Regions from separate parts of the Homo sapiens genome. Here region 1 is linked to region 2. The links come from fine-mapping of genetic effects on gene expression. A gene starts in region 2. The other region holds a variant in brackets. All regions are shown on one strand. Distances are between the middles of the regions. Region 1 overlaps POMT2 (protein O-mannosyltransferase 2). Region 2 holds the start of POMT2 (protein O-mannosyltransferase 2).

What was found.
Region 1: its variant is fine-mapped to the expression of POMT2 in unexposed skin (GTEx, PIP 0.96).

The regions. Positions count from the first base shown.
Region 1 is chr14:77,295,638-77,300,006 of GRCh38, reverse strand. It overlaps POMT2 (protein O-mannosyltransferase 2), which reads left to right. Exons shown (of 21, transcript NM_013382.7): 7 at 446-552; 8 at 1,236-1,318; 9 at 3,734-3,843. Among named protein-coding and RNA genes, the nearest start is that of POMT2, 23 kb to the left of the region's middle. The variant G/A (reference allele first, on the strand shown) is at 1,658.
Region 2 is chr14:77,319,069-77,323,449 of GRCh38, reverse strand. POMT2 (protein O-mannosyltransferase 2) reads left to right here and starts at 2,567. Exons shown (of 21, transcript NM_013382.7): 1 at 2,567-3,016. The coding sequence starts at 2,769. It overlaps GSTZ1 (glutathione S-transferase zeta 1), which reads right to left and starts at 2,414. Exons shown (of 9, transcript NM_145870.3): 1 at 2,267-2,414. The coding sequence starts at 2,281. RefSeq lists enhancers at 1,751-1,800, 1,332-2,193, 2,071-2,340 and silencers at 2,421-2,800, 3,031-3,080.

The sequences.
Region 1 (4,369 bases), 23 kb after region 2:
CCAGTCCCAGGCAATCCAGGAAGGCCTCTGGAAGGAAGCCGCGAAGTTAAGATAAGGAGCCATTAGCCATGTGATGGGTTGGGCTGGGACAGTAGAGGAAGCACTGGGAAAGTTCAAGGAGGTTAGTGTACCTGGAACATGGAGCGGACTGGTGAGCAACTGTGTTGCAGATGCAGGTGCCTTGTCCTTGGCACAGTAACATCCTGGGGTTTTGGGTGTAGAGCCTGGAGAGGTAGCAGAGGGCTGGCCCATGTTTATCTTGTGTAGTGCTTGGGTGGTGGGTGTTACAGAAAGGCTTAGGGTTTCCACATATTCTTCTCTCTCCTCTTGGCCATTTTTTATGATTATGACTGATATATTAAAAGCTATATATAATGCATGCATAGTGCCTAAGGAATAATGAGGTCTCACATGCCTAGCACCCCACGCTGGCCTCTGTTTGCAGGTGACTGTGGGAAAACACCTGACTGCTCGTGTCCTGTGCCTCATAGTGCTGCCCCTGGCTCTCTATACAGCCACCTTTGCTGTTCACTTCATGGTGCTGAGTAAAAGGTACAGACAGAGCCTTTGCAGCATCTTGCTTCTGGTTTTCCTTTTGCTCCTAAGCCTGTGGAGGGGTCGGATGATTTTCTGGGTCTGTGGTTAAAATGATAGGTGAGGGACCCCAGGGGCTTTTTCCTGTTTCTTTCCTGCTATGTTCTATCCTTTGGGTATATGCTAAGGGCTCAGAAAGGCCAGCACCCTAACCTGAAGGAAGAAGCTATTTTCGTTATAGCCAAATTGTCCCTTATCTCTAAACAGAGTCCCCTGTACTTAGCAAGGATAGGCCACAATAAGATGTGCAGTAGGAGTGAGTGTAACAATAACAGTAACTCCGGCGGCAACAGCTCCCACTTAATGAGTAGCTACTGAGAATCAGGAACTGTGTTCCGCATTTTGTACACATTATCTCATTTAATCAGAATCACTTGTGACTTCTCTTGGTTTCTTTAAATCTCTAGTTTATAAATGAGGAACTAAGGCTAAACAAGGTTATCTTGCCCAAGGTCGCACAGCTAGTAAGTGGCTGAGTTGGGATTTGGACCCCAGTTTCTCCAACTCCATCACCCACCTCTGTCCCATGATCTGATTCTACTTTCCTTAAACTATCTGAGCAGAGCTCTTCCCAGCGCTCCTGGGAAATCACACTTTCACTCCTTTAACTTGACTCTCTTCTGCTCTTCCTCTCCCCACAGTGGCCCTGGTGACGGTTTCTTCAGTTCTGCCTTCCAGGCCCGGCTTTCAGGGAACAACCTGCACAATGCTTCCATCCCTGAACGTGAGTGTCTCTGGGCCATTACAAAGGTAGAAGGCAGAGGGGTGTCCTGGGAGTTGAATTGGAAAAGACAAATATGATGGCTTTGGGTTATTTTAGCCTGTGATGGCACGGTGGGAGAAAGACCCAGATAGATCTGGTGAAAATACTCGAGAGTGAATCAGGACAGAGGAGAGGAAGACATCCTGAGCAGCAAGCTCTCTGACCCTAAAGAATGACTTCTCCTTGGTGGCTCTCCAAGCCAGCTCTGTGGGAAGGTCACTCAGAGAGAATATGGTGACAGCACCAGGCCCTTCAGAGCCAGTTTTTGGTTTCCCGCACCGCTTTCTGAGTGTTGCATTC[G/A]TTCATCTATGACAGATGGTAGTGGAGCGCGTGCTCACCCTCCAGAGATGGAGCCTGGTGTAGAGGAGCTCCACACGGTGTGGCTGGAAGCGTTAAGTACGTAAAGAGGGAGCACAGCTCTGGGGATTGACAGGCGTGAAGGAGCATGGCTGCTGGGCGGTTAAGGGCATCAGAGGTTCGTGATGTGGGTTGCCTTGGAGTCAGGCCCTGGAAGAATGTGTGGCTTTCAACAGAGGAGAGGGCATCTCAGGCAGGAGGGATGACATGATCAAAGCTGAGGACAGAGTAAAACTTGAGGCACAGGTATATGCAGAAAACTACTGGAAGATAAATGTGAAAAGTTAGGTTGGGCCCAGACTATGAGGGTTTGAGGTGTCTGGATGAGGTATTTGACTTCCTAAAACAGGCCGTGGAGACCTAGTGGAGGTCTTTGAGCAGCCAGGAGGCCAGGAAGGCTGTGCTATAGGGAGATGACATGGGTGGGAGAGTCGAGGCTGGCTGGGGAGGGGACAGGATTGTAGGCAAGAGAAACCCTCTGGGAAGCTATTGCAGGAACCTGAGCTGGGTATGGTGGGGCAGCCACAGGGTAAGGCAAATGGGCATATACAAGGGAGATCTGGACACAGCAAGAGAGGAAGAAAGATGTCACTAAGGACTTGAGTGCAGGTGATTGCTTCCTGGAGGCAGAGACTGCATCTTACTCATTTTAGTCTTTCCAGGACTTTGCACAGTGCCTAAAATACAGCGGACTCTCCCAGACTGGGAAGAATGAGAAATAGGGAAGCAGGAGAAGAAGTTGGGTTGGAAGGGCAGATACTGAATTCCACGCGAGAGGGGTTGATAGTGAGCTGCTTGGGGAAATTGTTGCCATGGGGCCAGTGGGATTTGGGGCTGATGCTTTCAAAGGAGGAATCAGACAAGTAAAACGGTAATTGATGCTGTGGCAGTAGCTGTGATTTGTAAGGAAACTGTAGAAAGAGGAAAAGAATAGAGCTGAGGTCAGATCACTGGGGAATGCAAGAGGAGGAGGAATTAGGAGAGGAGACTGCGGAGGAGCAGCCCTTGAGAGAGTGTGCGGTCGAGAAGTGGGAACAGAGAGCATTTCAAGAAATAAAGGTGGTCAGCCATGTGCAGGGCTGCCGAGGTTGGCCTGCCTGAGAACTCAGAAGAACACAGCTGTGGAGTTTAGCAAATTCCTGCTCATTATTTAAAGGCCTAGTTCAGCTGTCACCTCTTCGATCAAGTCGTCCTCTCTTTAATCCTTGGGAGAGAATTTGGCCTGTTCCGAGTTCCCACCATTCCCACCATGTCACACATTGTCACGCCTTTGTGGGGCACTTGCCCACTGTCCTATACTTGTCAGTGTGTGAAGCCATCTTCCTTGTAGACAGGGCTCTTCCAGGGCCACAGGCAGGCCTCCTCCACCTTTGGATCCAGTGTGTAATTCTTCTGGTCCACTGAATGAACAAAGAAAAACAGGAGCAGGTCATTCCAGCGGATTGGAAGAAGGACAGTATTAAGGAAAAAAGGTTTCTCAATAACTCAGGGCCTATAGGAGCAGGGGATGCTCTTGAGAAGTGGTTTTCTGTGTTTTTTGTTTTTTAATTCAGAGTAAAACAAAACACCATTGAACAGTTATTTCATATGGTACTAGATTCAAAAGGCACGAAAGGATATAGAGTGAAAAAAATGGTTTGTCAAAATGCTGTATCTTGGAGAACATTCCAGGCGAAGACAGAAGATACTTCCTTCTTTATTCCATTGAATCCATGTGGAGACCTTGAGAAGGACAAGTTGTTTTTCGTCTTTTGCTGTTACACGTAGTGCTTTGATAATGACAGTGTTAACACAAGCTTCTTCTGAAGCCCTCAGGAGGCGGGGGAGTAAGTGGGCCCTGTGGTGAACTCTGTCTTGAGTCGGCTCCATGGGAGTGAGAAGGTAGCTGGGCTTCAGTCCAGGGCCCAGGGGAGTCTCGCAGAGGGTTAGTGAGCCCTGTGGCTTCCGAGGCTCCTCGCAGGCACGGACAGCCTCTGGCACTGTGCCAGCTCACCCCTCTGCTGTCTCCCTTCCTCCCAGACCTGGCCTACGGCTCTGTGATCACTGTGAAGAACCTCCGGATGGCCATCGGCTATCTGCACTCCCACAGGCACCTCTACCCCGAGGGCATTGGTGCCCGTCAGCAGCAGGTCAGTGAGCCTTTTGTGCACTTGTACGGCAGCAATGCTGTTCGCCATGACAGTTCACTCTCTTGCCTCCTATCCTTTGCTCATCCTGTTCGCCCTGCTTGAAACATTCTTCCTAGCCCTGCACCCTTCTGTTTTCTCTGGCTAACCCCAGCTTCTCTAGGCATCAGCATAGGTGTTCTTTAGTGACAACCATGTCCCACCTCTCCATGGTGCTGGGTGGGGTGCCCCTCTGATGAGAGGCTTGGTGGCACCTTCCACATGCCTACGTGGTAAACCTTCTCATATTGAACTGTGCATGCTTACTTCCCGCCGTCTCTTTGGTACTTGATTGCTAGCTCCTGGAAGGCTCAATTGCCTAGCACGGTGCCTGCTATGGGATGGGTGATGAATAAAGTGTGGTATTTATGAACACAGACCTGGGAACCAGACTAGATGATCGGGGTGTGAAGCCTGCTTTCATATAGAGTGTCACTTTGGACAAGTTCATCTTCTTGTGCTTCAGTATCCTCTTCTTTTTTTTTTTTTT
Region 2 (4,381 bases):
GCTTGAACCCAGGAGGCGGAGGATACAGTGAGCCAAGATCGTGTCACTGCCCTCCAGCCTGGGGGACAGAGCAAGACTCCATCTCAAAATAAATAAATAATAAAATAAAATAAAAATAAAAATCATGATATTTTATATACAACACCTGTTTGTTTTTTTTCTTTAAAAAAATCTGGAGACAGATTTGGGTTCCTAAATAGCAGCAATTGATGGGAACAGACTAATGGCCCCCATCAACCAGCGTATGCGCTCTCAGGTCTGCCATGGCCCATATCTGGCCCACTTTTCTCATTTTTGTTACCTTTGGGCCCTTGGGGGCAGCTGGGTGTGCGATCTCTACTCCAAGGTTTAAGGGGCTCAAAGTTAATTTCTCTGGTACTTCTTCGGGAGCCAGCATTTCAAAGTGGAACCCAGGAAAGACTCGCCAGTGATTAGCACTCATGAATCTTCCCACCAAAACATGTGTATCCCTATGGATAGGGGAGAACTTGAAAGAACTTCTCAGATGCCCTGTTTACTACCCCTCTGACTATAGACATTTCACCAAAGCTCCCTCTCCCCTCTGCCACCCCTAGCATATTAAGCTGCTCTCTGAACTTGCTATTGCCATCCCTGTACTACCAACTCAGTCTGCTAGATGGCAAGGGTGTAAGTGGGAACCTAGGCCCTTCCAAGATGGTTCCCAAGCCCAGCAGTCCCAGCCTGTCCTGAAGGTACCTTTTGTGGAGAAAGTAAAGATGGTCCTGGCACAGAAAGCAGGTGATGGGCAGAAAGTGTCTTTCGAAGAGGAGGAATTGGGTGGCCACAACTGGATCTTCCTTATTTGGAGATGCAACTCCCTTTCCTTACCTAGCCAGGCTACAGGGACTCCTGGTGCCAAGGGACAGGGACTGCTGGTGACCACTAGAGTGTGGCAGACATTAATTAGCTTAGAATCCCTGAAGAAATGCCTTACCTAATGGCTAAATGCCTTTGGATTACACCTTTGGATCTGTACTACGAGTGACCAGAAGCATGGTAAATGCTGCTGCCCTCCGTCACGACCCACAAGCAGGAAACCTGAAATCTCTTAGGCAATTTCTGCCTTCTCTTACCAGTGATAACTATGTAAACCATGCCCCGTTCCTTTCTGCACTTGTAGAACTAAACTTTAAGCCCAAGTATCCATCTCATCAGCACTCCTAGAAGACCTGTGTTTCCAATTCAAATATGCATTCTGATTACTTTAGCAGATTTTATTTTTAAACCATGTCTTACACATGATTTGAGAAAAAGACTCCTAAAATCCCATTTGGAAGAGGGAGGACTATACATTATTAACGTGACGCAAAGTCCCATCTAACGTGCCACCTTCCTTAGTGCCACAAAAGTGGTTCTCAAACTTCATGGCACGTTAAGAACCATCTAGACCGCTTATAAAAACATGCAGATTCTCGAGCCCGTTCCACCAGAGATGAACAGAGTGGCTCTGGAGCAGGCCCCGGGAAGAACATGTGAAAGCCGTGAAGCTCCCCAGGTGATTGTCATGACTGCCTCTCCTCGCTCGGGGCCTTTTTTTTTTTTTTTTGAGCCGGAGTCCCGCTCTTTCGCCCAGGCTGGAGTGCAGTGGCGCGATCTCGGCTCACTGCAAGCTCCGCCTCCTGGGTTCACGCTATTCTCCTGCCTCAGCCTCCCGAGTAGCTGGGACTACAGGCGCCCGCTACCACGCCTGGCTAATTTTTTTGTATTTTAATAGAGACAGGGTTTCATCGTGTTAGCCAGGATGGTCTCTATCTCCTGACCTTGTGATCCGCCCGCCTCGGCCTCCCAAAGTGCTGGGATTACAGGCGTGAGCCACCGCGCCCGGCCCGGGGACTCTTAAAATACAAACATTACTGGAAGGTCACCTCCTGCTAGGGCCAAGAGAAGAGCATGAAGGGCTGCGAGAAATTGGGAGGCTTGGGGCGACGTTTGGAAGCCTTAGTGGAGGGAGGGGTCTGTTATGGGGAGCAGGGAGGGCGGAGCAGAAGTGAAGCGCGACCGGACAGCGACTCCACCCTGCTACGCACTCCCTACCAGGACCGCCTCCTCTGGCCCAACCCTCCCGGAACTTCGAGCCCCAGCGGGCAGCGCGCAGCACGCAGGCGCAGAGCGTGCCCGGCGCAAAGCACTGCATGCCGGGAGTCGTTGTCGGCCTGGGCGGGCGGTGCAGCTCACTTCTGACCCCGCCCCCCAGGGTCTCCAGGTGTCTAACCAGCTTCCCTCCACCCGGGTGCGCGTCACAGACCTTCCCCGCCTGCATCTGGCACTTCGCGCGACCCCCTCCTCCAGGCCGAGAAACTTCGCGCCTGGGACCTGCCGACGACTAAGGCTCAGTGAGACTCGACGAATCAGGCCCGTGTCTTTCGTCCGGGTAAAGCGAGGGGCTGGACTAGAAAGATCCTTCCGGTCGCCTCTGGCTCGCCCAGCTCTCCCGCCACGCCCCGTACCTGGGGGCTGCTGGGAGTTGCAGTTCCCTGAGCCCGACCCCTCCTGCCCAGTCCCCCCCGCCCCGGGCCGGCCGGCCCTCCCGGTCCCGACATGCTCTGCGCCTCCTGCCGCCTCCTAGCGGCCCGGGCCGCGACCACGCTGCCCGCCCCGCCCCGAGCCCGGGGCCCCGCGCTCCGCTGCAGTGAAGGGCGTTGCATTTCCCGGGGTACCCCGAGCTGCCCTCTTGTGACTCCTTGGCGGGGCGGCTGGTCAGACAAAGTGTGCCTCCGGGCCGGAGGGCGACCCAGAGGAGGGGGAAGATGCCGCCGGCCACGGGCGGAGGCCTGGCAGAGTCCGAGCTGCGTCCCCGGAGGGGCCGCTGTGGCCCCCAGGCTGCTAGGGCCGCAGGCCGGGACGTGGCCGCTGAGGCTGTGGCGCGAAGCCCCAAACGGCCTGCTTGGGGCTCACGGCGCTTCGAGGCGGTCGGCTGGTGGGCCCTGCTGGCCTTGGTGACGCTGCTGTCCTTCGCCACCCGCTTCCACCGCTTGGACGAGCCGCCGCACATCTGGTGAGTGATGGGAGGGACTCGGCGGGCACCATGGCAACCGCGACGGGACGCCGCCCTCTGATTGGCCCGAGGGTACGGAGGGGGCGGGATCTATAGGAGGAGGGCCACGGTGGAGGGGAACTTGAGGTATCGGGTGGGTTGGCCTCTGGCGAGGTGCATTCTCTGGGAGGGGGATCGTTTTGCTCTGGTGGTGGGGCAGTGGGATTCTTAGTATCTGAGGAAGCAGCCCTCATGTCTTCCAGGTTATGCTACAGTGCATCACCTGGCTTGCAAATTGTGGCTTTTAAAGGTGCTTTCAACTTTCCAAAGAGAATTGCAAATTTTTGGGTACAGAATTTTCTAAGGCCTGAGTTCCTATGTCTGCAGGATTTTCAGGCATCAACAGAGGAGAAAATACCTAACTGTGTACCTTTATCCTATAGGGCAAGGACAGTTTGGGTGTTCAGGTATGGTGACCAAAGGATTTTATGAGGCAGAACTCTTCTTGTGAGAAGAGATTTATTTTCTTAAAGGTTTTAGCTTGTACTATCCAGATACTGGGTGTCAGAAATGGAATTCTTTAAGCAAAAAGCAGGCAAGAAAACAGACTGTCAGGGTTGCTTTATTTAGAAATTAATAAATTAGCTTGTTATTGTGTCGTGACTGCTGGCAGAAGATGAGACTCCTGGGTTAGAGACAAAGGACTTTATTACAGGAAATAGGATGCATGTTAGAAGCAGTTTCCCTTGCCATCCAAGTCCCACAGGGTGACGCTATGGGTTTAAATGGATGACTGCACAGGCAGTGGGTTGCATCCAAGTGAAGGAACGACAAGCTTGGAAAATCTGCTGTTTTATAGAAGGCAGTACGCAGACCTCCTCTTTGTCCTGGAGGGAGACACTGCCTCTTCTCTCAAAGTTGCTTGCTGCAAACACAACCATGAGAAATGGCCCAGGTGAGATGCAGTCAGGGCCTTGCATTCTTGGTATACCCAGAATGATGTGTAGAGGCACGAGCAATCTGACAGCCTCTCTCACTCCTCGATTCTATGGTCTTGGCTTCTAGCAGATTTTCACATGAATATACAACTCCCCTGGCTACTCACATCTTTTCAGTTTGTCCCTTACAGCATTTAATTAAGGTTGTTGTCAATGGGACTCTAAGCAGCAGAATAAGGCCAGCTTACAGTATTTACCTCAACCATGCCCTCCAGGGTCCTGGATTCAGCCACTTGTGAATAAGTCCTGGGGGCACCGAGGAATCTTATTTCAGACATCTGGGCTGCAGTCTAAGACCAGTCTATTAACCACTGTGACCTGTGCACAGGGGTTCAGATTGATCTCTGATCTTTGGTGTCATTACCAGTAATTACAATAGCCCACTACC